Regions from separate parts of the Homo sapiens genome. Here all the other regions are linked to region 1. Evidence: fine-mapped QTL for protein levels in blood plasma. A gene starts in region 1. Each other region holds a variant in brackets. All regions are shown on one strand. Distances are from middle to middle. Region 1 holds the start of TNFRSF10C (TNF receptor superfamily member 10c). Region 2 overlaps TNFRSF10D (TNF receptor superfamily member 10d). Region 3 has its middle 5.5 kb from the start of TNFRSF10D. Region 4 overlaps TNFRSF10C (TNF receptor superfamily member 10c).

Evidence for each region. PIP is the posterior inclusion probability: the model's chance that the variant is causal. The UK Biobank Pharma Proteomics Project read protein levels with antibody pairs (Olink). The fine-mapping took linkage between variants from a reference panel, not from the people measured, so its PIPs are less certain.
Region 2: its variant is fine-mapped to the plasma level of the TNFRSF10C protein (UK Biobank, PIP above 0.99).
Region 3: its variant is fine-mapped to the plasma level of the TNFRSF10C protein (UK Biobank, PIP above 0.99).
Region 4: its variant is fine-mapped to the plasma level of the TNFRSF10C protein (UK Biobank, PIP above 0.99). The variant lies in the coding sequence of TNFRSF10C. If it changes the protein, the assay may bind it differently, which can mimic a change of level.

Annotation. Positions count from the first base shown.
Region 1 is chr8:23,102,748-23,109,314 of GRCh38, forward strand. It overlaps TNFRSF10C (TNF receptor superfamily member 10c), which reads left to right and starts at 174. Exons shown (of 5, transcript NM_003841.5): 1 at 174-434. The coding sequence starts at 375. It overlaps LOC254896 (a long non-coding RNA gene), which reads left to right. Exons shown (of 4, transcript NR_046173.1): 4 at 1-811. RefSeq lists an enhancer at 239-1,048.
Region 2 is chr8:23,144,006-23,151,896 of GRCh38, forward strand. TNFRSF10D (TNF receptor superfamily member 10d) reads right to left here. Exons shown (of 9, transcript NM_003840.5): 3 at 4,433-4,546; 4 at 2,956-3,067; 5 at 1,663-1,916; 6 at 1,053-1,084; 7 at 445-630. Among named protein-coding and RNA genes, the nearest start is that of TNFRSF10D, 16 kb to the right of the region's middle. RefSeq lists an enhancer at 585-1,312. The variant T/C (reference allele first, on the strand shown) is at 4,190.
Region 3 is chr8:23,165,559-23,173,449 of GRCh38, forward strand. No RefSeq gene overlaps it. Among named protein-coding and RNA genes, the nearest start is that of TNFRSF10D, 5.5 kb to the left of the region's middle. RefSeq lists a silencer at 2,915-3,095. The variant G/A (reference allele first, on the strand shown) is at 3,650.
Region 4 is chr8:23,112,502-23,117,501 of GRCh38, forward strand. It overlaps TNFRSF10C (TNF receptor superfamily member 10c), which reads left to right. Exons shown (of 5, transcript NM_003841.5): 3 at 2,156-2,269; 4 at 3,007-3,115; 5 at 4,140-4,944. The coding sequence ends at 4,530. Among named protein-coding and RNA genes, the nearest start is that of TNFRSF10C, 12 kb to the left of the region's middle. The variant GT/G (reference allele first, on the strand shown) is at 2,257.

The DNA.
Region 1 (6,567 bases):
AAGAGCCAGTTCCTGTCCGTCCATGCACCCACCACCAAAACCCAGGCCTTCCTGGAGGTGCTAGGGGAGGCCATGCCCCTTTTCTGAGTGCTTGGAAGTGACTGCTGCAAGTGACAAGTGACCACGCCTTTTCCCCCGCGGGTATAAATTCAGAGGCGCTGCGCTCCGATTCTGGCAGTGCAGCTGTGGGAACCTCTCCACGCGCACGAACTCAGCCAACGATTTCTGATAGATTTTTGGGAGTTTGACCAGAGATGCAAGGGGTGAAGGAGCGCTTCCTACCGTTAGGGAACTCTGGGGACAGAGCGCCCCGGCCGCCTGATGGCCGAGGCAGGGTGCGACCCAGGACCCAGGACGGCGTCGGGAACCATACCATGGCCCGGATCCCCAAGACCCTAAAGTTCGTCGTCGTCATCGTCGCGGTCCTGCTGCCAGTGAGTCCCGGCCGCGGTCCCTGGCTGGGGAAGAGCGCACCTGGCGCCGGGAGGGGGCAGGGAGACGGGGACACGGCAGGGATGCCTGGCCCTGGTCACCTGCGGCCGGGCATGTCCGGGCAGGACGAACTCGCCGTCGGAGTCAGGGGAAGAACTGGGTCCCCGGGCTGGGCAGGAGGGACCCGGCCGCGAGGGAGCAGAGAGGCGGTCCCCCTGGCTGCCCCGAGCCCGCGAAGGGAGGGAAGTTCCAGAATCGAGAGAGGGAGGGAGTCAAGGTGGAACCCATAGAGTGAGCCTCCTGAAGACACAGAGCGGTTGCCTCTCTCATTAATTAATTAATTAGTTAATAAAATTAACCCCATGTTTACATTCTTAAACGTGTTCCTTGGAGATCGGTTTAACCAACAGCCAGTGAAAAAACTTTTCAGCGCTGTCTTTAGCAACTTTCACCTCCTCTGTCCTGAAAGTGGCAGGAAGCCGGAATGTGGCAGGAAGCGGTTAACCAAGGTGCTGCCTTGGTTAATGTCTTCCACTACCACCCGTGTGTCCCCTCTGTATCCCATAGGCAGGACCGGGGCTGGCCCCTTCCTTCAGCATAAACGGTGTAAAGTTGTTGTGAGTTGGCTTTGGAAACTGAGATTGGTAGTAGTGTGAGTGCAAGGACATATTATGTATAAAATATGCAGACTTCTAGGTCTCTTTCAGATTGATTGAGGTTTTTGCTAACAGCCCTTTTTAAGATTCTTTATGTAATACAAAAAAAAGAAAAAAGAAAAAGAAAAGGCCAAAGCAAGGTTACAGAAACCATGAGAGTTTGCATGTTGTCTTTCTACAAATTAATGCTAAATTCAGAAAAGCAGTAACATTTTCACCTCTCAAAAATTACACAACTGACTTTTAAAATAGTTTATAGTGGGTGGACTTACCTGAGGCAGCTAGAAGAATGGCTGTGTCAGGACAGTGGCCCTGAAGAGAGAATGCATGGATGACCAGTGTAGACAAGGCCAGCAACATCAGTTTCACGGTTTTGGGAATGTGAACTCTATGCGTCCCAAAGGAGGCTTTAATCCCTCCATCAGTCTTGCCTTATTAAATGCATTTAAATGTACAATCACTTTGTTAAATTTTGGAGCTAACACAAATCACATTAGATGTTTTATGGCAGTACATTCAGATTGATCTTCTTTTAAACAAGGGTATTGTATTTTACTGCATGGGTAAGCCACATTTTAATTCACTGTTGCCGCCTAGGGGCAGCTGGTTAGATCCCATCCTGACGGCCTTTGCTAATTCCAACAGCATTGTACTAAATACCCTTGTATGTATCGTGTGTCCACATATCCATGCACACCAGCTTATTGGGCAACTCCTTACAAGTTGAATTCTACTTCTCCTTCTGTGGGATAAATGACTTCAGAAGTTTCTTTAAATGTTCACGAATTTTCCTCCAAAAAACCACTGAACCCAGCTTACAGTCACACCTAGTCCACAAATGTGCCTGTGTCCCTACACCTTTGCTACACTTAGCTTTCATTCTTTACTAGTCTAAGATGTAAAACATAACACATCACATTGCTATGTATTTTTGTTTCCTCATGGTATTAGGAATTTTCAAGGATATAGGAGTTTTTTGGTACTGGGAGTAGACCAGGGTATCCAGATGAGACAGCAGGGAAGACTGAATTCTGAGCTGTGCACTTGGAAAACCCTGGTCAGTTGGGGCCAGTCCCTGCCACCCACCATGCCTGTGAATGGAGATAAGGTCTCCATCCTCAGCCTGTCAGGGTGACTTCAGATGAGCCTGGAGCTGAGTTCAGTTCCTGACCCCAGGTCCTGGCTCTGTCAATGCTGGGCTGGTCCAATCTGTGCGCCAGGTCCTTCCACACCATTCCTCTCTCTATCAAAGTAGGAATTGAGAAGTTCCAACGGCTCAGAATCTCGGACTCTCAGGCTGTCAAGGACTCCTGAGATTGAAGGTTGTGAATGGCTGGGCCCTGCCGTGCTCCCCCTCTGGCTCTGTGACTCTGGTGTGGCCCCAGCTCCTGCCTGTAAAGTGAAGAGGAGGTAAAAATCTTCAGCAGCCCTGTGTAAACCTCAGAGGGCTGTGTTACCAGGTGTGGGAGGACAAATCACATCCTCAGGGCTGGTGTCACTCACTCTGGACTGGATCCCCAGGCACCTGTCCTCCATCCAGCAGAGGCTGCCCCTGTTCCTACCTGCACCCTGGTACTTGCTCCCTGAGCTTGGGGCAGAAGCTTCTGAAGACTAGGGTGGAGCACCACGGGGAGGGGCCATGGAGGAACAGAGGAGCCAGACGTCAAGTGAGGACAGCGATGGCACTGCAGGGCCACAGCCTGGTTTACCTGCCATGCTTCCAGTTGTCCTTCTGGTAGGCGCCTGGCCCGGGTTGTAGTTTGAAGAGTGAGCAGGAAATGTCTCCATCCAGGTGGCTGCAGATGGCTACTCACCCAGGCTGTACTGAGAGGCCACAGTCCCAGTTCTGGTCCTCTGTCGTGTATCCAGGAGTGGCAGGGCAGTGAGGCTCTAGCTTCTAGGTCAGGGATGGGGACAGTGGGGACAGTGCCATGCCCCGAGCCTCTGCCGTTGGGCAGCTGGTATCCTGCTTCCAGCCAGAGAATGCACATCTTCATGTAGTGGATTTCCTAACAACCCGGGGAGATGAAGGTAGGTTGTTTTTCCTGTTTTACAAGTGGTAAAATGAGATTCAGGGCTAGAGTTCTCTGAGCAGCTGCTTCTCTGATCTCTGTCCTGCCCTTGGCCTCTGGGAGCTCTTATGGTTCCTCAGCAGAGTTCACAGGGCTCTTGGAGCCTGTCCTTCGGCCTTGAGCTGAGGCCACAACTGCGCGCACTTCATAGGCTTGAGGGGAAAGTGATTCATCCAGGAAGTAAACAGTGAGCCCTTTACTCTGAGAACACCTGTGCCTGGAGTCCGCCGGAGTTTGGGAGGACAAATGAACCCCATGTGAATCCTGTTCCCTGGAGCCCGCAGTGTGGTGGGAGAGGTGACCCAGGGATTATATAACTAATAGGAGGTAGCATGAAGGAGGCCTGAGATCTCACTACCCTTGCCTCCCCCTCCTCCAGAGAGGCTGTGCTGGAGAGAGGCCATGCTGTTGCAGGGCCATAGGATGTGGTACTGTTGGCCTGGAAGATGTGGTTTGATTACAGTCACCATTGAGGGTCAGGGAGGGGAGCGAAGCTCTCCTTTAGATGCCCCCCCACCCGATTTTTTTTTTTTTTTTTTTAGCTGGGCCTGAGAATTTGATTCACCTAAGAGAGGTCCACAGGAGACAAGCACACACATTTATTTAATTCAAGTTTTACCTGGCATGGAAGAACCTGTGAGAGTCAGTTACTTATTTACTGAATTAGACCAAGTAACTCATGAAGAAGCAAGTAACTATGTGAGGAGCTAAAAAGATGAGAGTGGATCCATTCTAACATGGTCTGCACAGTACCCTCTTGGCCTCGACTTCTCATCCTTAAAAATAAGGAAATTGTCAGCTGGGTGCGGTGGCTCACGCCTGTAATCCCAGCACTTCGGGAGGTCAAGGCAGGTGGATCACGAGGTCAGGAGATCGAGACCATCCTGGCTAACACAGTGAAACCCCGTCTCTACTGAAAATACAAAACAATTAGCGGAGTGTGGTGGCGGGTGCCTGTAGTCCCAGCTACTGGAGAGGCTGAGGCAGGAGAATGGTGAGAACCTGGGAAGCAGAGCTTTCAGAAAAAAAAAAAAAGGAGATTGTCCTATGTTTCCCTGGGGACTTTCATCTCCTGCTTTTAGGAAACACAAAAGAGGTCAAAGGATCTTCTTGCACCTGTTGTTTTTCAATAGCCTTTAATTCATAATAGTCAATTGACCAGGGTGGGCAGGGTGCGATGGCTCACACCTGTAGTCCTGCCAAGACAGGCAGATCACTTGAGCCCAGGAGTTCAAGACCAGCCAGGGCAACATAGCAAAACCCGGTCACAACAACAACAACAAAAAACCAAACAAACAGAAAAACAGAAAAACACAGAAAATTATGTCGTGTGAAGGAATCCACACAGAATGCTTACCATCTGATTCCATTTCTCATTAAAATTCGACCAATCTATTCTGACAAAAAGCAGAATTATTGCTGGGGACATAGGAGCAAAGCGGAAGAGAGGATTACATTGAAGAATGAAGAAATTCTGGGGTGTGGTGGACATGTCATTTTCTTATCGTGGTGGTAGTTCCACAATGTATACACACGTCTCAATCTACCAAACTACATGCTTCAAAAATGTACACTTTGTTTCATGCCCATTATACCTCAATGAATCCATTTTTAAAAAACCTTCAATAGAATGTAAACACTTGAGTGTATACTGTATTCCCTATAGCACTTGCACATAGATCATGGAAATAGGTATGCATAAAAAGTCAGTTTATCCAATTAAAATGGAATTCTAAAAGGTAATTAACATTAAAATGTGCAGGGGGAAAAGGAGTAAAAAAATTAGACTAGACAATCATAGCTTAAATGGTAAACTTACAGGTCTATTTCAACTATATCAATTATTGCACTCCCTGTAAATCCACTGAGCACTACAGTTCAATGGTAGAAATGTTTGGAAGGGCTGAGAAAGCAAGACTCAACTATATCTTGTCTATATGAGATGGGCCTTAAAAGGAAGACACAGATGTTGTCTGTTGAAAGTAAATAGATGGAAAAAGATACACCATGCAGAGTGTAAGGCCAAGAAAACTGCCATGGCTATCTCAGTATCAGATGAAGTTGATTTTGTTAGCGGTGGATGAGATCCGAGTTACCCTACGTTGAAGGCGGCGAATCCGTATGCGTCCACAGCACCTTCAGCTCTTCGCCTCCTGAGAAGAAAGAACTGGTTTGAGGGGCATAAGGCAGAAGCAGAGATGGAGGCAAGTTTCAGAGCAGGAGTGAAAGTTTATTAAAAAGCTTTAGAACAGGAAGGAAAGGAAGGAACAGGAAGGAAAGGAAGGAACAGAAAGAAAAGAAGGAAAGTACACTTGGAAGATGGCCAAGCAGGTGACTTGAGAAACAGTACGCAGCCGGACCGCCTGAGTTGGGGTTTTATAGGTTGGCCTACTTCCAGGATCTTGCCTTACTTCTCCCCACTCCTGAAATCTTATTGGGAAGCTGCTGATCAGTTTCAAGTGTTTTCTATGTATTAGGAAACTGCTTTTTTCTGGCATCGGCTGTAACCAGTTATTACTTTAGAGACACAGTTATCAACTACCTGATGGTCGCCCAACACTGCTGGTGTCAGAAGCGGGGACCCCTCTCCTGTCCTGCTCATACCTAACTAGCTGCCTACTGTGACAATTTTAGGACATTGAATATTATGGGAGATGAAAAGGGACCTTTGTAGTTAAAAGGGTTAATTCTTCAAGGAGTATAATAACAACAAATTGTATATGCCTAGTAATACATCTTCAAAACACATGACACAAAAATAGAATTAAAAAGAGATTAACTCAGCTGTTTCTCTGCACTTGCTAGCATGATTAGATGAAAATGCCAGTAAAGTGGCAAGCGATCTGCACACTATCAACCACCTTGATTTAACTGACATTTAAAGAGCAGGAGTGGAACATTCACTGAACACTCATTCCTTTCTATGCTCATGATACTTTCACCAAGATAGACCAGGTTCTGGGCTATAAAACACACAATATGATCTCTAAACTTAATGAAACTAAACTGGAAATCAGTAACAATATCCACAGAGAATTCTAAAATTTTGATATTGAACAACACACTTCTAAAAATCTGTGGTTCAGACAGGAAATCAAAAGGGAAGGTAAGATATTTCAAAGTAAGTAATAATGACAATATAACACATCAAAAGTGGTGCGAAATAGCTAACAGTGCTCAGGGTGAAATATACAGCTTTCAATGTTTGTATTAAAAAACTGGGGGTTAGGGAGATGGGGAGTTACTGCTGAAGGGTATGTAGTTCCTTTCTGGAGTGATAAAAATATTCTAAAATTGATTATAGTGATGATTGCATAGCTATGAGTATATTAAAAACTGCTGAAGTGTGGACTTTAAATGGGTGAATTATATGAATAATCATAATTATTAATTATGTGAATTGTGTC
Region 2 (7,891 bases), 42 kb after region 1:
CTTCCCAGAAGCCTCCTTACATACTTGATCAGAAATCTGGACAAAGATTTACTGTGAAATATGTTCAATGTAGTAAGAATTTTGAAGAACATTTAAAACTTCCGCTGTTTCAAGCAAGGGCTCCCTGACTTCTGTTAGGAGCACACGATGGAGACTGTGCAGCCTTATTCAGTCCTCAGTGAACCCTGTGACACCCACTCTATGCCTGTGGAGATCCAGGCTCTGGGGACACAGCAAGGACAGGACAGGGAGTAAGAAGCAGATGTCCTGCAGACTGGCACGGTCACCACCTCAGTGCAGCTGCTCCGTCCCCTGCAGTCCCCTGTCTCCCAAAGGCTCCATGTCCCCTTGGGCCAGGAAAGAGGAGGCACTGCCATGTCCCACTGTCTACAAAGTCCTGTGCAGGCTGCACGCCAGGCAGGGCACAGTCCCTCCTCAACTCACCAGCAGACGCTGTGGCTCCTCTGGCAACTCTACAGTCACACCTGTTAGCTCTGCCAGCTCCTGACCTTGGATTTCCTGCTCAGAGACCTGGGTGGGCTGCAAGTATCTGTTACTCAGGGTCTCGTTGCGGGCATTGTCCTCCGCCCCAGGAACTCGTGAAGGACATGAACGCCGCCGGAAAAGGACCTTGGGAAGACAAAGAGCCCACTCAAGTCCACACCCCGGGCTCAGCTTCAGGGTCCCCAGTACACAGCTGGACCTGCCATCCCCAACCCCTTCCAATGAGGTCACCCCAGGCAGCTGAGGCTCAGCACATCCAGGACCCCATGCTGAGGTGGGTCAGGTGGTCACCCCATCCCCATGGGGCCAGCTGTGGAGTGATGGTGTCACCGAGGCTGCAGGAAGGACAGGGCTGCAGCACGGCCTGCTGGTCTGTGTGCTGCTCAAAATGGCCGTGTGTCCCCCACAGTCAGCCCAGATCCCCCAGGCCATGTCAGAGAGTCAGGGCAGCCATGAGGACAAGGGATTGTGCCCACCCAGGCTCGGCAGTGGATGGGAAGCAGTTCCTGAACCCACGAAGCCCCCAGTTTCTGGAGAAACCAACTCACTCTGTGCACACGTTCGGGACCTCCTCCACCACCTGGAAAAGAAGCAGTCTCCTGAGCAGGCGGGGAGGGGCCCATGCAGCACCTCCCTCCCAGAGGACAGTGGGGCGCAGGGCTGGCTGGGGGCTGGGACACTGGACAAGGAGCCCTGGGGCTGGGGACAGAATGGGGCCTTGCAATTAGGGGACACCCTGAGGAAGGGGGATGAGAAGGGGAACTAGAGTAAAAACCAACACGTGGAAAATCTCTGTGTTCTGCTCTGACCAAGGCTGAATAAATCCCACGACCACTTCTCATCCTGACCCTTGTCACCCAGTTGAGGAGCTGACTGCCCCCTGCCTGGCTGGGCCTGAAGATAGGAGGAACTGGCCCTGCCCTCCTGGAGTTGGCTCCGGGAGATGAGGGGTCCCCCAGCCCTGAGAGAGGGACTGATGAGACCAGGGTCCTTGGGGATACACAGGACGTGGGGATGGGGCGATCACAAGAAGGAAGACCAAGCCAGGCTGGAGACGCTTGGACCAGGGGCAGGGATGGGGATTACTGTCTGTGGGAACGGAGTGGGAGAGGGCAGGGCAGACAGTGCCCAGCGCTCCCACCCTCAGCCAGCACCTACCTGAGCAGATGCCTTTGAGGTAAGAAATGAATTTCTTCCGACATGAAAAGCCAACCACAACCACAGCTAAAATGATGACTAAAACCACTATGATGATAAGGTAGTGATAGGGAGAGGCAAGCATCCCCAGGATGGTGGTCACTGTCTCCTCCGCTGCTGGGGTTTTCCCAGTGGAACTGGCAGCTGATTCATTTTTGCACTTGATGTCACTCCGGGGCGTACAATTACTGACCTTGACCATCCCTCTGGGACACCTGGGTACACACAGAGAGGGAGACAGGGACTCTTGATGGAAAGCTGGCCAGGTGGGATGAAAGAGGAGCCACCCTCCCTGCCCAAAGTCCCTGAGAAGGCGTCAGGAGGACAGGCTCCTCGTGTCAGCAGTGGGTCCCCCTGTGCTCCCTTCTTGAGGCTGGGGAAGGGTCTGAGCATGCACACTTCAGCCCCTCGGCCTCCCTGCTCTGGGGTCAGAGCTGTAGATCCAGGAGCCTTCTGTGCTGGGCACACACTGAGCTTCCCTGGGCTGCAGGGGAGGCCTGCGTTAGGAGGAGCCGCACTCCAGGGGAAGATCACAAGCCCCTGTGGCCACAAGCTGAGCCCCTTCCTCCAGTTAACACACAGTACAAGTGAGTCCTCGCCCCACCCTGTCTGCCGCTGGTTCCTCCCAACCACAGCAAACACTGGAGGGCCAGAGAAGAGCAAGTTACTCTTTGCCCCTAAAACCCAAATAGGATAAAGAAGGACTTAGTGAGAAATCGGGGGCCAGGGGTGAGGCCGGCTGGGTGGGCTCAGGTCCTCATGGGAACTTAAGGGAGCTCCACCCATGGCCTTATTATGACTTTTGTGGGCTACGGACACTTTTGTCTTTATGGGTCCCTGCCCACATAAAAAATATTAAAAATTACATTTTTTAAACCAACTTAGAGTAAGGAAAAATACAAGCCAGGCTGGATTCAAGTGTTTTCTTCTGATTTCAAAAGGAAATTACATTTCCTAGGTTGCCTGAAAAGGTTCAAGGGACCTAGAAAGTCACCTCCTGTGCCCAGTGAACAATTCAGCCTGGACAAAGGGACTCCTGCTGGGGAGGGTATGGGAAGGGGCTGCTGCAGGGGGTAGGGGTGGGGACAGGCAGATGGACCAGGAGGGGCCAACGCAGGCTCAGGAAACCCCACAGGCTCAGGGAGGCCTCGGGCCTGGAGGATCCATGGGGTCAGCGGAGAGATAGAGGTACCAGGTGAATCAGGTCTTTTCAGGTTCCTGAAAGCTGTTGGGAGCCCCTGGCTGCTGTCTTACCCTGTTCTACACGTCCGGCACATCTCAGGGGAGTTTTTATCCTGGAAGCTTCCTTTTTCACACTGACACACGGTGTCTCTGGTCGTGGTACAGGAACTTTTATTTGTTTGACCTGACAACAGAGCATAAGGTTTTGAGAATGTGTTTCCCTGACATGTCTGTCCACCCTTCCTCACCACCCCATCCCCTCCCACTCAGCTCAACTCAGTTCACCAAGGAGTTCTGAGGGCTGGTTTCTGCACCAGCACACTCGGGACTCATACAGGACACCCACCCTGTATGTAAGGACCAATACAAAAGGACCGTGATTCATTATTTATTATATCAGGTTAGGGGAAAAGCATTGTTTAGATGGCATGGTCAGTAGCAAGGGAGGCGCAAGGGCATCACCTGAGAGACTCTGCAAGGAGAGGGGCCCTTGGGGGACTTCCCAAAAGCCCCGGCCTTGCTGGGGAAGAGGAAGGGGCCTGAGAACCTGAAGGCTAAGTGAGGCCAAGCACCTTTCAGGAGCACAGAGCCCGGGAGGAGAGAGCCTGGCCACGGAGCAGACCTGTGCCACTGCTGGAACCCAGCCCTGTCCACTGGGCCAGGCCTCCTCTATGCTGTAATGATGCCCCCACCCGGCTGCAGGCAATAGTTTAGAAGATTTCCCAGCCTGGTGGCATGCATTACAGAAAAGATTTTGGCCAGGCGCAGTGGCTCACACCTGTAATCACAGCACTCTGGGAGGCTGAGGCAAGCGGATCACCTGAGGTCGGGAGTTCGAGACCAGCCTGGCCAACATGGAGAAACCCTGTCTCTACTAAAAACACAAAAAACTGGCTGGGCACGGTGGCTCATGCCTGTAAGCCCAGTACTTTGGGAGGCCGAGGTGGGTGGATCACGAGGTCAGGAGATCGAGACCATCCTGGCTAACACGGTGAAACCCCGTCTCTACTAAAAATACAAAAAAAAATTAGCCGGGTGTGGTGGCGGGCACCTGTAGTCATAGCTACTCAGGAGGCTGAGGCAGGAGAATGGCGTGAACTCAGGAGGCGGAGCTTGCAGTGAGCCGAGATCGCGCCACTGCACTCCAGCCTGGACAACAGAACGAGACTCCGTCTCCCAAAAAAAAAAAAAAAAAAAAAAAATTAGCTGGGTGTGGTGGTGCATGCCTGTGATCCCAGCTACTTAGGAGGCTGAGGTAGAAGAATCACTAAACCTGGGAGGCAGAGGTTGCAGTGAGCCAAGATCA[T/C]GCCATTGCCCTCAAGCCTCAGCAACAAGAGTGAAACTGTCTTCAAAAAAATAAATAAATAAAAGAAAAGAAAAAAAAGATTTCTATTTTTTTTTTTTAATCAACTAGTCATAATCATGGAACAGGGCATGATGAAGACTACCAAGTTGGGCTAGAACTTGGTTCCCCGACTCACATCGGCTACAGCTCCCACCTCATCACTATGCACTCCACCTCTGGGCAAGGGGTCCACACATTCTGTACCTGATTTACAAACTGTACATAGCAGGCAAGAAGGCAAATTGTTGGAAGCAATGGTGTAATCCACACCCTCTGTGCACGGGTTACAGGCTCCAGTATATTCTGATCTATGAGATCCTGGGAAGGGAGAGAAAAGTTAATGAATGAGTCACCACAGAATTCCCAGAGGCTGACAATGGCTGGCAAATTTCTCTTTTGGCCCTCAGTGGAATCCAGACAGAGAAATCTGCTCTTCTTGGCTTGGTCTTGTCATCAATTCTGCATCTATTACACTATTACATACCTTTGACTGGCACTGCTGACAGAAATATAATACAAATCACATGCAAAATTCAAATTCTATGAAAGCCACATTAAAATAGTACAAAGAATGAGGTCAAATTAATTTTAACTATTTTTTAGCCTAAAAATATCCAAAACACTACATTTCAATATGTAATCAATATAAATATTTGAAATATTTTATCTTTTTTTGGCCAGGCACGGTGGCTCACGCCTGTAATCCCAGTACTTAGGGAGGCCAAGGCGGACGAATCACGAGGTCAGGAGATCGAGACCATCCTGGCTAACACAGTGAAACCCCATCTCTACTAAAAATACAAAAAATTAGCCGGGCGTGGTGGCAGGCACCTGTAATCCTAGCTACTCGGGAGGCTGAGGCAGGAGAATGGCGTGAACCCGGGAGGCAGAGCTTGCAGTGAGCTGAGACTGTGCCACTGAACTCCAGCCTGGGCGACAGAGCAAGACTCTGTCTCAAAAAAAAAAAAAAAAAAGAAAAGAAAAGAAAAGAAATATTTTATCTTTTTTAAAATTTTTTTTGGAGACAGAGTTTCACTCTTGTCACCCAGGCTGGAGGGCAATGGCGCGACCTTGGCTCACTGCAACCTCCACCTCCCAGGTTCAAGCGATTCTCCTGCCTCAGCCTCCTGAGTAGCTGGGATTACAGGCACCCACCACCACGCCCAGCTAATTTTTTGTATTCTTAGTTGACACGGTGTATCATCATATTGGCCAGGCTGGTCTCCAACTCCTGACCTCAGGTGATCCACCCTCCTCGGCTTCCCAAAGTGCTGGGATTACAGGCGTGAGCCACCATGCCACGCCCAGTCTACTTTTTTTTTTTTTTAACAATAAAATAAAATAACAAAATAAAATCCAACCTCATCTACATGTGATCTGCCCATGCTGGTCCACCTGACCTGTTTGCTGTCCACTCACTATGGTGGCCCCGTCTCTGCTCGGTATCCCCCAGCGCCTGCACCCTGGGACTGTCATTCCTAGGGAGGCTGCTCAGGAGCACCATTTCTGGCTCTCTGCACAACTATCCCTGTCCAGCTTTGGAGACTGGCCAAAATCACCATCCCCGAGAGGCCCCACCAACCTCGTCTCTGTCTCACTCATCACTTAATTTCTTCATGGTTCCTATCAGGAATTTCTGACTGTTATTTTGATCTGTGTGTCTTAATACTATCCCAGAGAAAAGGTTCCACGAGGGCAGGGCCTCTTATAATTATCCCATTAGCACGGTGCCTGACTGACAGAAATCATCCAACATGTCCCTATGGAATAAAGAACCAGAAAGTGCAGGAAACAGAAGTCTGGAAACACATAGAGATAAGGGCATGATAAAGGCATGATAAGCTAAGATATCAGTCTTAGCTTGTGCCTTCGGGCTAGCACTACAGACCCAGGATCCTGACCCACCTCCATAGATTCAGCTTCCAGATCTGTCCTAGTGCCAGGTCAGTCCCCATGAACTCAGGCTCCAGGCCCTTCCCTGTGGACCCAAGGATGAGACCCATCACAGCACCTGGCTGACATCTGCAGACCCAAGTACAAGGCCTATTCCAGTGCCAGTTCAGCCCTCATGGAGCCAGGCCTCAGGTCACCTCTCTGGATACTGGCTCTGACCACCCTTGAACCACACCACATGGCCTGCCCAGAATCTGTGAACAGGCTGACTGGTGAAGGGCGTTCCCTGACAAAGCCAGTCTGTAAATACTGGATTAAGTCCCTGCTTCTTCAAAGTGCACATTCCAACATATTGCCACAGGCTCCTGAGCAATCAGGGAACAGTGACGGCACCAAAGAAACAAAATGAAGCACAAGTAACCAACCCGAAAGGAATAGACATTTACAACAGCCTGACAAAGACTTGAAAACAGTCATCTTACAGAAGCTCAGTCAGCTACTAGAGAATATGGATAGACAACTAAGTCATGTCAGGAAAACAATACATGAACAAAATGAGTAGTTTAATATACACAGACAACATAATAAAGAAGAAAGCAGAAATTCTAAAATTAACAACAACACAATATCTGAACTAAGAAAATTCCACAGAGAATGTCAACAGCAGAGTTGATTAATCGGAAGAAAGAATCAGTGAGCTTGAAAACAGATCATTTGAAATTACCAAGTCACAGGAAGAAAAAAAAAATAAAGAATGAAAAAGAGGGAAGAAAGCCAACAGTACCAACGGTTACTGTGAAGCAAAACAATATATGCATTATGGTGGTCCAAGGAGCATCAGAGAAAGTGAAAGGAACAGAAAGTGTAATTAAAGAAATAATTAAAGAAAATGTCCCAAAACAGGATGGGAATGGACATCCACATTCATGAAGCCCAAAAAACCCCTAACAGATAAATATGAAGAGATCTTCACCAAGACACATCTTAAACAAATTCCCAAACATCAAAGGCAAAGAGAATTTTGAAACCAGCAAGAGACAAGCAATGTACAAAGGAACCCCTATAAAACTACCAAAGGCTTCTCAGCAGAAAACCTACAGGCCAGGAGAGAGTGGAATCATACAAAGTACAGAAAGGAAAAATTCCTTGCCAACCAAGAATACTACACCTGGCAAGCCTGTCCTTTAGAAATGCAGAGCAGTAAAGACTTTATCAGACAAAGAAAAAAAAAAACGGGGGGAGTTCATCTTTAGCATGTATTGCCTTACAAGAAATGTTAAAGAGAGTTATTCAATCTGAAAGAACAGAACACTAACTGGATACACAAAACCATGCGAAAATATAAAACTAGGTGGTTAAATACATGGTCAAGTTCAGAATATTCTAATACAATCATAATAGTGTACAAATTACTTACATCATTACTATAAAAGTTAAAAGCCCAATGTATTTTTTTAAATGATACTTAATACAATTTGTTAAGGAATACACAACATAAAAAGACGTAAATAATGACAAAACATAAAATAAGGCAGGAGAAGAAAAGGTGTCAAGTTTTTTATGAGATCAAAGATAAATTGTTATCAGTGTAAAATAAAGTTAGACATGAACCTAACTTACAAATTCAGTAGTGTTTTTATACACTGACAAGAAACTATCTGAAAAATCCCATTTATAATAGCTACAAAAAAAATGCTTAGGAATAAATTTAACCAAGGTGGTGGCTGTATTTTTTTCTAATTTGGTCTTGAGGTTTCTCTCTGTAGAGTG
Region 3 (7,891 bases), 63 kb after region 1:
AGGCCCCAGGCACTGAGCTAGGGTCAGAAATGTGTGTCAGGCCCCAGGCACTGAGCTAGGGTCAGAAATGTGCGCCAGGTTCCAGGCACTGAGCTAGGGTCAGAAATGTGTGCCAGGTTCCAGGCACTGAGCTAGACTCAGAAATGTGTGTCAGGCCCCAGGCACTGAGCTAGGGTCAGAAATGTGTGTCAGGCCCCAGGCACTGAGCTAGGGTCGGAAATGTGTGCCAGGCCCCAGACACTGAGCTAGGGTCAGAAATGTGTGCCAGGACCCAGGCAATGAGAAATGTGTGGGGTCAGGAATGTGTGCGGGGTGCAGATCCAGGCAGGAGGTGAAAGGTCAGGGACTTCAGGAAGACTGACAGCATTAACACAGAGCCACCAGGGCCTGCAGGAAAGTCCTTAGAGCACCTTAGCTCCCTTGGCCCTGGAGGGTGGACCACACAGTATAGACCAGAAACCAGACTGCAGGTAACAACGCATTCTCTGTGCCCTGTGTGGAGCACTGACTAGGGCTAATGGCAAAAGGCTGTGAGCACCTCCAAGGAACTGGGCCTTTAGAGTCAAGTTTCCACTTAAGAGGCACTTACTAGCTTGAGATGGAACACTAACTGAAGTCTCCCCTGTCACTGAAGGACATAAAATAATCTTGAAACCTGAAAAACTGATGATGTCTTCAGGAATCTTGGAAAAGCTCTAACGGGGAGGCCAGTCCCAGAAGAGTTCTATTACAAAATGGATTTTTTTTTTTTGAGATGGAGTCTCACTCTGTTGCCAGGTTGGAGTGCAGCACGATCCAGGCTCACTGCAACCTCTGCCTCCTGGGTTCAAGCGATTCTCCTGCCTCAGCCTCCCGAGTAGGTGGGATTACAGGCACATGCCACCACGCCTGGCTAATTTTTGAATTTTCAGTAGAGACGAGGGATCTTCATGTTGGCCCGGATGGTCTCGATCTCTTGACCTCGTGATCCACCCGCCTCAGCCTCCCAAAGTGCTGGGATTACAGGCGTGAGCCACCTCACTCAGCCTAAAAAATGGAAATGGTTGATATGGGATCCTGGTGCCTGAGGAAGGCAAAGAGGAGACACTCATGAGCAGGGAGCCTCTGTTCCCCTCAGACTGAGTCTGGAACTGGGTGAGGAGCTGCTGGATTCTGTGGTCACTTGGACATTGCCCTATACACAGCTCTTTACTTACTGACCAAGAGCTACTTAGTTTGTAGACAGTCATTCCTAGATGAATGGACAACATCCTACTTGGAAGGCCACCCCTCTGATGGAAGAAGGCAAAGGCAAATTGGCTAGGTGGGTTGGATTGCATGCTATTTTCCTAGCCTTATGGAAGATTTGAACAGCAGCAAAAGCCCCTGTACTTGAGTTTTTTTCTGGCTCATGGACAGTCGTCAATGTCCCGGTCATAGAGTTGGGAAGGAGAATGTGAAAGTTGATCGCACAAATTGGGTCATTCTTGTCACACCCAACTAAAACAGAGTCAAGAGGCCATGGGGAAGAAAAATCACTGTATTACCCCCAAACTGCAATTCTCTGTAAGTCTGGCAGCTGTAACGTGAAACTATTAATAGTTCTGTCTTATATCTATTGACACAACCAGCTGCTGCTCTAAGACCAGCCTGACCCACTGCAGTCACTCACCAGTCAGAGCATGCCACTTCTTCAAATTTTACAGCGCCAATGAACTTTCTGCAAAAAAAAATACTTAGTATTTCTCATTTAAAAAAAAACATCTGGCCGTGTGCGGTGGCTCACACCTGTAATCCCAGCACTTTGGGAGGCCGAGGCAGGCGGATCACGAGGTCAGGAGATCGAGACCATCCTGGCAAACACTGTGAAACCCGGTCTCTACTAAAAATACAAAATAATTAGCCGGGCGTGGTGGCGGGCACCTGTAGTCCCAGCTACTCGGGAGGCTGAGGCAGGAGCATGGCATGAACCCAGGGGGCGGAGCTTGCAGTGAGCGGAGATCACGCCACTGCACTCCAGCCTGGGCAACGGAGCCAGACTCCGTCTCAAAAAAAAAAAAAAACTTCCAAACTTCTCTTTGTTCTTTGGACGTACCAAAGACAACTTGGTCTTTGTGTATGCCAAGAATTGCAATTCTTACTTTCCAAATAAAGGGTATTAAATTTGGATATTCGTCTCTACATTTTCCATTGTTTCCAAGAGTAAGGGGAAACTGACCTAGTGTAGGGATGTCCATATGAGGCCCGACCCTATGGAAATCTCTAGGGGAGCTTGAGGAGTGCATTAAAGTAAGACACGCCCATGCTGGTCAGTAGAACCCACCCTCAGGTTTAGAAAGTGACTGTAATCAGCAAGAGATACCCCCGTGTACTCCCTTGAGGTGGTCACCAGAGGCCACGAAGCAAAAGAAGTGGATATGGGGGAACCACAGTGACGCAGAGATGGGCTGAATCGAAACACATTCCTCTTGCTCTCTCTCAGGCACATGACACCAATAAGAGCTGTTCTGTCTAGCAGCGGGAGAGACAGAGACTGCCTATAGCTATGAGGCAGATTCCCTGATGAGGAGGCCCTCAACATACTTGGAAAGTGAGACTGAGGGCAGTGCCCTGGGGGGTACAGGTGAGTCTCGACAGCAACAGAAACTGACTGTGGATTGTCTTTTCCTTACCTGGTGGAGGCTGCAAATGCCCAGAGTGCTATTAATATAAAAGAACTGAAAGAAGGTATTATTCTAGTTTGGACCACTAAACCGAACTTCCTTGGACCGAGAAACAGGCTGTTCAGTGCATAATGTTTAGCAATGGGCAGAGAGATATCCTCCTTAGAGTAATAATTTGATAGGGAAGCGGAACAGTCAACTGAAACATTGATTGTCTAAAATGGGGGGAGACACAGGCATGAAGGGCTGGCTTCCACACCTTCACTGGTGTGTGCCCCTACTCCACACGAGTGGGCTAAAGGAGTGTCCCCACCAGACTTTCCTCCATTTTTCCAGTGGATCTGGGGATGAGGGGGTGGGGAGGATGCTAGTATAATGACTGTCATTTTGTTGTTGTTGTTGGGTTTTTTTGAGACACAGTCTCACTCTGTCACCCAGGCTGTAGTGCAATGGCATGATCTCGGCTCACTGCAACCTCCGCCTCCCAGGTTCAAGTGATGCCTCCTGAGTACCTGGGACTACAGGCCCCCGCCACCATGCCCAGCTAATTTTTGTATTTTTAGCAGAGACAGGGTTTCACTATGTTCGTCAGGCTGGTCTCAAACTCCTGACCTCAGGTGATCTACCCACCTTGGCCTCCCATAAGTGCTGAGATTACAGGCATGAGCCACCGCGCCCGGCCAATGACTGTCATTTTTGTCTTTCTTCCCCGCATTACCTCAACTCTCCCCTCCTCCCCACCCACCACCTGGTGCAGTGGCCACAGGACCGGGGCTACAACTACAAGTGCTGGAAGCAGCGACGACTCCTAAGCCAGGAACTGAGACTATGTGTTTAGACTTTTCTGTCAATTTTCTTACAGACCTGATGGGTGTGGGTTGTGCTTTGCCCCACCTGGCAAAATAGAAGCTAACCGTATATGCAGCTACATTGCCTGATATGGTTTGGATGTGTGTCCCTCCAAATTTCATACTGAAACAGGATCTCATGTTGGAGATGGGCCTGGT[G/A]AAGGTGTTTTGGGTCATGGGGGAAGAACCCTCATGAATGGCTGTCTGCCTCCCCACAGTAGTGAATGAGTCCTTCCTCTATTAGTTCACTCGAGAGCTGGTTGCTTAAAGGAGTCTGGCACCTCTCACCTCTGTCTCTTGATCCCTGTCACCATGTGATGTGCTGGCTCCGCTTTGCCTTCTTCCATGATTGGAAGCTCCCTAAGGCCCTCACCAGAAGCTGAGCAGATGCAGGTGCCGTGCTTGTACAGCCTACAGGACTATGAGCCAAATAAACCTCTTTTCTTTATAAATTACCAAGCCTCACCTATTCCTTTATAGCAACGCAACATGGACTAATACATTGCCTATTGGTAAAATAGCCCACTAGTTCTGCACCTATGTAACCCTGCCCTATATGAATGGAAGTAGATTGAGGGGATACGCTTGCTGCATGAGTATTGCTGTCAGCAAGCTGGCCCATCACAATTCCTTTTAAAGTGGAAAACTTTGAATATAAGTGAAAAGAAGAAGGAGGAGGAGCTGAGAGTAAAATAATGAATAAATGGTTTATGTAATGGGGAAAATCTTGTATTACAGTAATACCAAGAAAGAGACGCAGAGGAAGAGAAGACATTGTCTCTTAGCTCAATTATCCCAGATGTCTGAGAGGGGGAAGCTCCATATTTGCTGAGACCTGTCCTGCTTTTGGAACCTGACAGGTGGAATGGAGGCCTAAAAACCTGAGTGGTCTCATCCTGGGATGCTTTTTTTTTTTTTTTTTTTTGAGGCTGAGTTTCTCTCTTGTTGCCCAGGCTGGAGTGCAATGGCGCGATCTCGGCTCACTGCAACCTCCACCTCCCGGGTTCAACTGATTCTCCTGCCTGGGCCTTCCAAGTAGCTGGGATTACAGGCATGTGCCACTACACCCAGCTAATTTTGTATTTTTAGTAGAGATGGGGTTTCTCCATGTTGGTCAGGCTGGTCTTGAACTCCCGAACTCAGATCATCCACCAGCCTCGGCCTCCTGAAGTGCTGGGATTACAGGTGTGAGCCACCACACCCGGTCCCTGGGAGACATTTGTATATGATATGATGCTGGAGTGGACTAATTATAAGTGACTGAGGAGGACCTAGTAACCTACCAGTATCTTTTGAATTGTGTATCGTTTTGCTATGAGGGAATCCATGGCCAGAGATCAGACTGATTTTGCTATGAGGGAGTCCATGCCAGAGATCAGTCTGGTCTCTGGCCATGGACTCCCTCATAGCAAAAGGATATGCAACTCAAAAGATCAAATATGTATTATTTTATTTGTGCCATATTTGATCTCTGCCCTGTTTCCTGCAACAAAGCTCTGAAAATCCTTGGAATCTCTCAAGTGATCAATGTGTTTTTTGTATGCCAGTGAAATGACTGATGGCTGGAGGCTCTTGGACAGCCTCGGGGTGGGGGGAACCAGCCTGTGATCAGAGGGTTGAACCTTCAGCCCCTGCTGAAGTTTTGCTTGGGTTTTGCTTACCTGGTGGAAGCTGCAAATGCCCTCCCCCATCCCAGCTTCTGGTGAGAGAAGAGGGGCTGAATGTTGAGGTGATCACCAATGGCCAGTGATCACTCATGCTTGAGCAATGAAGCCCCCAAAAAAGCCCAAAAAGAGGCCGGGCGTGGTGGCTCACGCCCGTAATCCCAGCACTTTGGGAGGCCGAGGTGGGCGGATCACGAGGTCAGGAGATCGAGCCCATCCTGGCTAACCCAGTGAAACCCCATCTCTACTAAAAATACAAAAAATTAGCCAGGCGTGGTGGCGGGCACCTGTAGTCCCAGCTACTTGGGAGGCTGAGGCAGGAGAATGGCGTGAACCTGGGAGGCGGAGCTTGTAGTGAGCCGAAATAGCACTGCTGCACTCCAGCCTGGACAACAGAGCGAGACTCCGTCTCAAAAAAAAAAAAAAAAAAAAAAAAAAAAAGCCCAAAAAGACAGAGTTCAGAGAGCCTCTGGGTTTGTGAACAAGTACACATCTGTATGTAGGGAGGGTGGCACCCTCTAATTCCACAGGGACAGAGCTCCTGCACTGGGCACCCTCACAACCCTCACCTTCTTCATCTGGCTGTTGATTGATATCATTAAAAATATCCTCTGTAATAAATTGGCAATAGCAGGTAAACTGTGTTCCTGGCTTCTGTGAGCTGGCCTAGTGAATGATGAAACCTGAGATGCAGAACATGGGAATTGTCAGTTGGTGGCTCCCATGTCAGGTTCTAATTAGCCTAGTTGTGGGGGAACCAGGAGTTTTCACAATGACTCAATGGCCAATGAAATTCTTATGAATTCACAGTTTATTGTGTGGCTTTTGCACATACACACTCATGCAAATATAGTCAACACACACAGGCGGTGATGAGACGGTGGGGAAGGGACCACAGTGAGCATGTCAGGAGACCAGCACGCTGACTGACACACTGGCAGGTCCGGGTTTCCTCAGAACATGGACCAGGGTGGGGGTCGCTGCTCTTCTTCCATAGCCCATGGGAAAGAGGCCTCAGAGTTCTTGGGGGCAGAGCTGCAGCAGCTGCTTGGCTATGGTCAGAGTCTTTGCGGTTTTTATGGCCCTCTGCAGGCTTGTCTGTAGCCAAGATCTCAGCTGCCTTCTGGCTTCACTTGCTTGTCTGGTCTAGGGGGTGCCCGTCCACAGCAAATCCTCTTATCACCTCAGTCCACCACACATACGCTTCTCACTCTGAGGGGTCAGCAATTTCAATGTGGGCTGATCCTCTGTCACAAGTGAATTTATTTTGAGACATTTAGGGTCACCAAACACTAATATATATCAGTAGCTAAGTCAGACAGAAGGCGTGGACGACTTGGGGACACTGTATTAGTCTGTTTTCACACTGCTATAAAGAATGGTCCGAGCCTGAGTAACTTATAAAGGAAAGTAGTTTAATTGACTCACAGTTCCACATGGCTGGAGAGGCCTCAGGAAACTTACAGTCATGGCGGAGGACGATGGGGAAGCAGGCACCTTCTTCACAAGGCGGCAGAAGGGAGAGTGAATGAGGAATTGCCAAAGCCTTATAAAACCATCAGAAGTTGCGAGAACTATCATGAGAACAGCATGAGGAAACCAACCCCACGATCCAGACATCTCCCACCACGTTCCCCCCTTGACATGTGGGGATTACAATTTGAGATGAGATTTGGGTGAGGACACACAGCCAAACCATATCAGACCACCTGCTTGTGATTTGCACCTGAAGTGGGGGGAGTCTGTGGCACTGAGTCCTTGCCCTGTGGGGTCGGCACTACCTCCGATTTGTGTCAGAAGTGAATTGAATTGGCTGGGCGTGGTGGCTCATGCCTGTAATCCCAGCACTTTGGGAGGCCAAGGCAGGCGAAGCACGAGGTCAGGAGATCAAGACCATCCTGGCTAACAGGGTGAAACCCTGTCCCTACTAAAAACCATAAAAAATTAGCCGGGCGTGATGGCGGGCTATTGGGAGGCTGAGGCAGGAGAATGGCGTGAACCCGGGAGGCGGAGCTTGCAGTGAGCCGAGATCCCGCCACTGCACTCCAGCCTGGGCGACAGAGCGAGACTCCGTCTCAAAAAAAAAAAAAAAAAAAAAAAAGAAGTGAATTGAATTATGGGGCACTCATCTGAGGTGGGAAAAGTGGTCAGGGTGGGAAAAATCCACACATCGGTTCCCAGAAGTATCTCGAACTATGAATATATTGATCAGTGTAATTTTGTGTCCGGAATTGGTGGGTTCTTGGTCTCACTGACTTCAAGAATGAAGCCGCAGACCCTCGCGGTGAGTGTTACATCTCTTAAGGTGGCACGTCTGGAGTCTGCCCCTTTTGATGTTCAGATGTATTAGGAGTTTCTTCTTTCTGGTGGGTTTGTGGTCTCGCTGGCTCAGGAGTGAAGCTGCAGACCTTCGCGGTGAGTGTTACAGCTCTTAAGGCAGCGCGTCTGGAGTTGTTCATTCCTCCTGGTGGGCTCGTGGTCTCGCTGGGCTCAGGAGTGAAACTGCAGATTTTCACGGTGAGTGTTACCGCTCATAAAAGCAGCATGGACCCAAAGAGTGAGCAGTAGCAAGATTTATTGCAAAGAGCAAAAGAACAAAGCTTCCACAGTGTAGAAGGGGACGCCAGGGGGTTACCAATGCTGGCTCGGGCAGCCTGCTTTTATTCTCTTATCTGGCCCCACCCACATCCTGCTGATTGGTAGACCCGAGTGGCCTGTTTTGTCAGGGCGCTGATTG
Region 4 (5,000 bases), 9.0 kb after region 1:
ACCATTCTGCTCTCCACCTCTATGAGACCAACTTTTTCTGATTCCACATATGTGAGATCATGAGGTGTTTGCCTTTCTGTGCCTGGCTTATTTCACTTAGCATAGTATCCTCCAGCTTCATCCATGCTGACACAAATGACAGAACTCCCTTCTTTTTAAAGGCTGAATAGTATTCCATTGTATCTATGTGTCACATTTTCTTTAACTTTTCATCCATCCATGGACACGTAGGTTGATTCCATGTCTTGACCATTGTAAATAATGCTCCAATGCATATGGGAGGGAAGATATCTCTTCAATATACTGACGTCATTTCCTTTGGATGTATACCCAATAGTGGGATTGCTAGATCATATAGTTGTTCTATTTTTTGTTTTTTGAGGAACCTCCATACTGTTTTCCATAATGGCTGTACTAATTTCCATTCCCACCAACAGTGTACCAGCATTCCTTTTTCTCCCCATCATCAACACTTGTTACCTTTTGTCTTTTTGGTAATAGCCATTCTTACAGGTGTGAAGTGATATTTGGCACTTGATGGTTAGTGATGCTGAGCATTTTTTTCATATACTTTTTGGCCACTTCTATGTCTCCTTTTGAGAAGTGTCTATTCAGGTCCCACGCCCATGTATCCATTTTACTTGGATTATTTGATTGTGTGCTATTGAGATGTTTGAGTTCCTGTGTATTTTGGATTTTAACCAAAATCTTGGATCTTTTGAATATTGACCCTCATTCTGTAGGTTGTCTCTTCACTCTGTTCATTGTTTCCTTTGTCATGCAGAACCTTTTTAGTGTAATGTAACCTCATTTGTCTGTTTTTCCTTTTGTTGCCTGTGCTTTTGGGGTCATAGTCAAGAAACCATTGCCCAGACCAACATCATGAAAATTTTCCCCTATGTATTCTTGTGGTAGTTTTACCATTTCAGATCTTATGTTTTAATCTTTAGTCCATTTTGAATTAATTTTTACATATGATGTGAGATAAAGGTCTTATTTCATTCTTCTGCATGTCAATACCTACTTTTCTCAACACCATTTATTGAAGAGCTGTCCTTTCCCCATTTTGTGTTCTTGGTATCTTTCTCACAATCAATCAACTGTAAATGCATTGATTTATACCTGGGTTCACTATTTTGTTCCATCAGTTTATTTACCATTGTTGTGCCATTACCATTCAGTTTTGATTACTATACTTTTGTAACACGTTTTAAAATCAGGTAGTACGATGCCTCCATCTTTGTTCTTTTGTTTGTTTTGCTTAAGATCACTTTGGCTATTTGAGGTCTTTTGTAGTTCCATACAAATCTGGGCGTGGTGGTGCGTCGCCTATAATCCCAGCTACTCGGGAGGCTGAGGCAGAAAAATCGCTTGAACCAGGGAGTTGGAGGTTGCAGTGAGCCGAGATTGTGCCACTGCACTCCAGCCAGGTGACAGAGCAAGACTCTGTCTCAAAAAAAAAAAAAAAGACACATGAATATACATAACAGTCAGGATGTCCTGATGGGAACCATGAAGAATAGTTAAGTGACAGGAGATAGACAAGGTTGGTGGGGCCTCTCGGGGATGGTGATTTGGGCTGATATTTAAAGTTGGACAGGGCCAGTCTTGCAGAGAGCCAGGAAGAGTGCTCTTGAGAAGGCCCTGAAGGAATGAGAACCCCAGGTTTCGGGGGCTTGGGGAGACTGAGCGAAGACAGGGGGCCACTGTGGTGAGTGGACAGCAAACAGGTCAGGTGGACCAGCATGGGCAGATCACATGTACAGTAGGTTGGATGTTATTTTGTGAGTGACGGCGTAAAAAAAGTAAAATATCTCAATGATGTGTATTGATTACATGTTGAAATGTAGTATTTCAGATATTTTAGGTTAAAACTATATTGTTAAAATTAATTTGGCCTCATTCTTTTTACTATTTTAATATGGCTCTCATAGAATTTGAATTTTGCATAGAATTTGAATTTTGTATTATATTTCTGTCAGCAGTGCCAGTCAAAGGTATGTAATAGATGCTGAATGGATGACAAGACCAAGCCTGGAAGAGTGGATTTCTCTGTCTCAATTCCAGTGAGGGCCAAAAAAGAAGTTTCCCCACCACTGTCAGCCTCTGGGAATTCTGTGGTGACTCATTCATTGGCTTTTCTCTTCCTTCCCAGGATCTCATAGATCAGAACATACTGGAGCCTGTAACCCGTGCACAGAGGGTGTGGATTACACCAACGCTTCCAACAATGAACCTTCTTGCTTCCCATGTACA[GT/G]TTGTAAATCAGGTACAGAATGTGTGGACCTCTTGTCCAGAGGTGGAGCGTGGGGCAATGAGGTGGGAGTTGTAGCCGATATGAGTCAGGGAACCAAGTTCCAGCCCAACCTGGTCTTCATCACCCTGTTCTATGATTATATATTTGACTGATTAAAAAAATAGAAAGAAATCTTTTCTATAATGCATGCCACCTGGCTGGGAAATCGTCTAAACTGTCAGCTGCAAGAGGGTGGGGGGATCATTAGAGCATAGAGAAGGCCTGGCCCAGTGGACAGGGCTAGGTTTCAGTAGTGGCACGGGTCTGCTCCAGGGCCAGGCTCTCTCCCCCAGGCTCTGTGCTCCTGGCAGGTGCTCGGCCTCACTCAGCCTTCAGGTTCTCAGGCCCCTTCCTCCTCCCCAGCAGGCCCAGGCTTTGGGGAAGTCCCCCAAGGCCTCCGTCTCCTTGCAGAGTCTCTCAGGTGATGCCCTTGCACCTCCCTTGCTACTGACCATGCCATCTAAACAATGCTTTTCCCCTAATCTGATGTAATAAATAATGAATTATGCTCCTTTTTATGACTCCTCTGAGTGCTGGTGACAGCTGAAGGGTGGGTGTCCTGTATGAGCCCTGAGTGTGCTGGTGCAGAAACTGGCCCTTAGAACTCCTTGGTGAACTTGGTTGAGCTGAGTGGGAGGGGGTGGGTGGTAAGGAAGATCGAGGGATACATCAGGGAAACACATTCCCAAAACCTTATGCTCTGTTGTCAGATCAAAAACATAAAAGTTCCTGCACCATGACCAGAGACACAGTGTGTCAGTGTAAAGAAGGCACCTTCCGGAATGAAAACTCCCCAGAGATGTGCCGGAAGTGTAGCAGGTGAGACAGCAGTCAGGGGCTCCTGACAGCTTTCAGGAACCCGAGAAGACCTGAGTCACCTGGTACCCCTATTTCTCCGCTGACCCTATGGAGCCTCCAGACCCATGGGGTGTCCCTGAGCCTGTGGGGTCTCTTGGGTCTGCAGTGGCCGCTCCTGGTCCATCTGCCTGTCCCCACCCCTACCCCCTGCAGCAGCCCCTTCCCAGACCCTCCCCAGCACGAGTCCCCTTGGCCAGACCAACTTGTTCACTGGGCACAAGAAGCAACTTTCTGGATCCCTTGATCCTTTTCAGCAAACCTAGGAAATGCGATTTCCTTTTGAAATGAGAAGAAAACACTTGAATCCAGTCTGGGTTGTATTTGTTGCTATACCAAGCTGTTTTAAAAAATGTTCTTTTTAATATTTTTTATGCAGGCAGGACCCATAAAGACAAAAGTGGTCACGGCCGACAAAAGTCATAAGAAGGCTGTGGGTGGAGCTCCTTCAAGTTCCCATGAAGGCCTGAGCCAATCCAGCCGGCCTCACCCCTGGCCCCAATCCCTCAATAAGTCCTGTCTTTTCCCTATTTGGGCTTTAAGGGCCAAGAGTAATTTGTTCTTCTCTGGCCCCCTAATGTTTGCCGTGATAGGGAGGAACCAGCAGACAGTTGGGGGTGAGAGATCACTTGTACTGTGGGTTGACTGGAGGAAGGGGCTCAGCTTGTGGCCACAAGGGCTCGTGACCTTCCCCTGGAGTGTGGCTCCTCCTAACGCAGGCCTCCTCTGCAGCCCAGGGAAGCTCAGTGTGTGCCCGGCACAGAAGGCTCCTGTGGCCCCAGAGCAGGGAGGCTGAGGGGCTGAAATGCGCATGCTCAGACCCTTCCCCAGCCTCAACGAGGGAACTTGGGGGACCCCCTCCAGACAGGAGCCTGTCCTTCCCCTGACACCTTCTCAGGGACATTGGAGAGGGAGGGTGGCTCCCCTTTTATCCCACCTGGCTAGCTTTCCCTCAGGAGTCCTCACCTCCCTCTCTGTGTGTACCCAGGTGCCCTAGTGGGGAAGTCCAAGTCAGTAATTGTACGTCCTGGGATGATATCCAGTGTGTTGAAGAATTTGGTGCCAATGCCACTGTGGAAACCCCAGCTGCTGAAGAGACAATGAACACCAGCCCGGGGACTCCTGCCCCAGCTGCTGAAGAGACAATGAACACCAGCCCGGGGACTCCTGCCCCAGCTGCTGAAGAGACAATGACCACCAGCCCGGGGACTCCTGCCCCAGCTGCTGAAGAGACAATGACCACCAGCCCGGGGACTCCTGCCCCAGCTGCTGAAGAGACAATGATCACCAGCCCGGGGACTCCTGCCTCTTCTCATTACCTCTCATGCACCATCGTAGGGATCATAGTTCTAATTGTGCTTCTGATTGTGTTTGTTTGAAAGACTTCACTGTGGAAGAAATTCCTTCCTTACCTGAAAGGTTCAGGTAGGCGCTGGCTGAGGGCGGGGGGCGCTGGACACTCTCTGCCCTGCCTCCCTCTGCTGTGTTCCCACAGACAGAAACGCCTGCCCCTGCCCCAAGTCCTGGTGTCTCCAGCCTGGCTCTATCTTCCTCCTTGTGATCGTCCCATCCCCACATCCCGTGCACCCCCCAGGACCCTGGTCTCATCAGTCCCTCTCCTGGAGCTGGGGGTCCACACATCTCCCAGCCAAGTCCAAGAGGGCAGGGCCAGTTCCTCCCATCTTCAGGCCCAGCCAGGCAGGGGGCAGTCGGCTCCTCAACTGGGTGACAAGGGTGAGGATGAGAAGTGGTCACGGGATTTATTCAGCCTTGGTCAGAGCAGAACACAGAGATTTTCCGTGTGTTGGTTTTTACTCTAGTTCCCCTTCTCATCCCCCTTCCTCAGGGT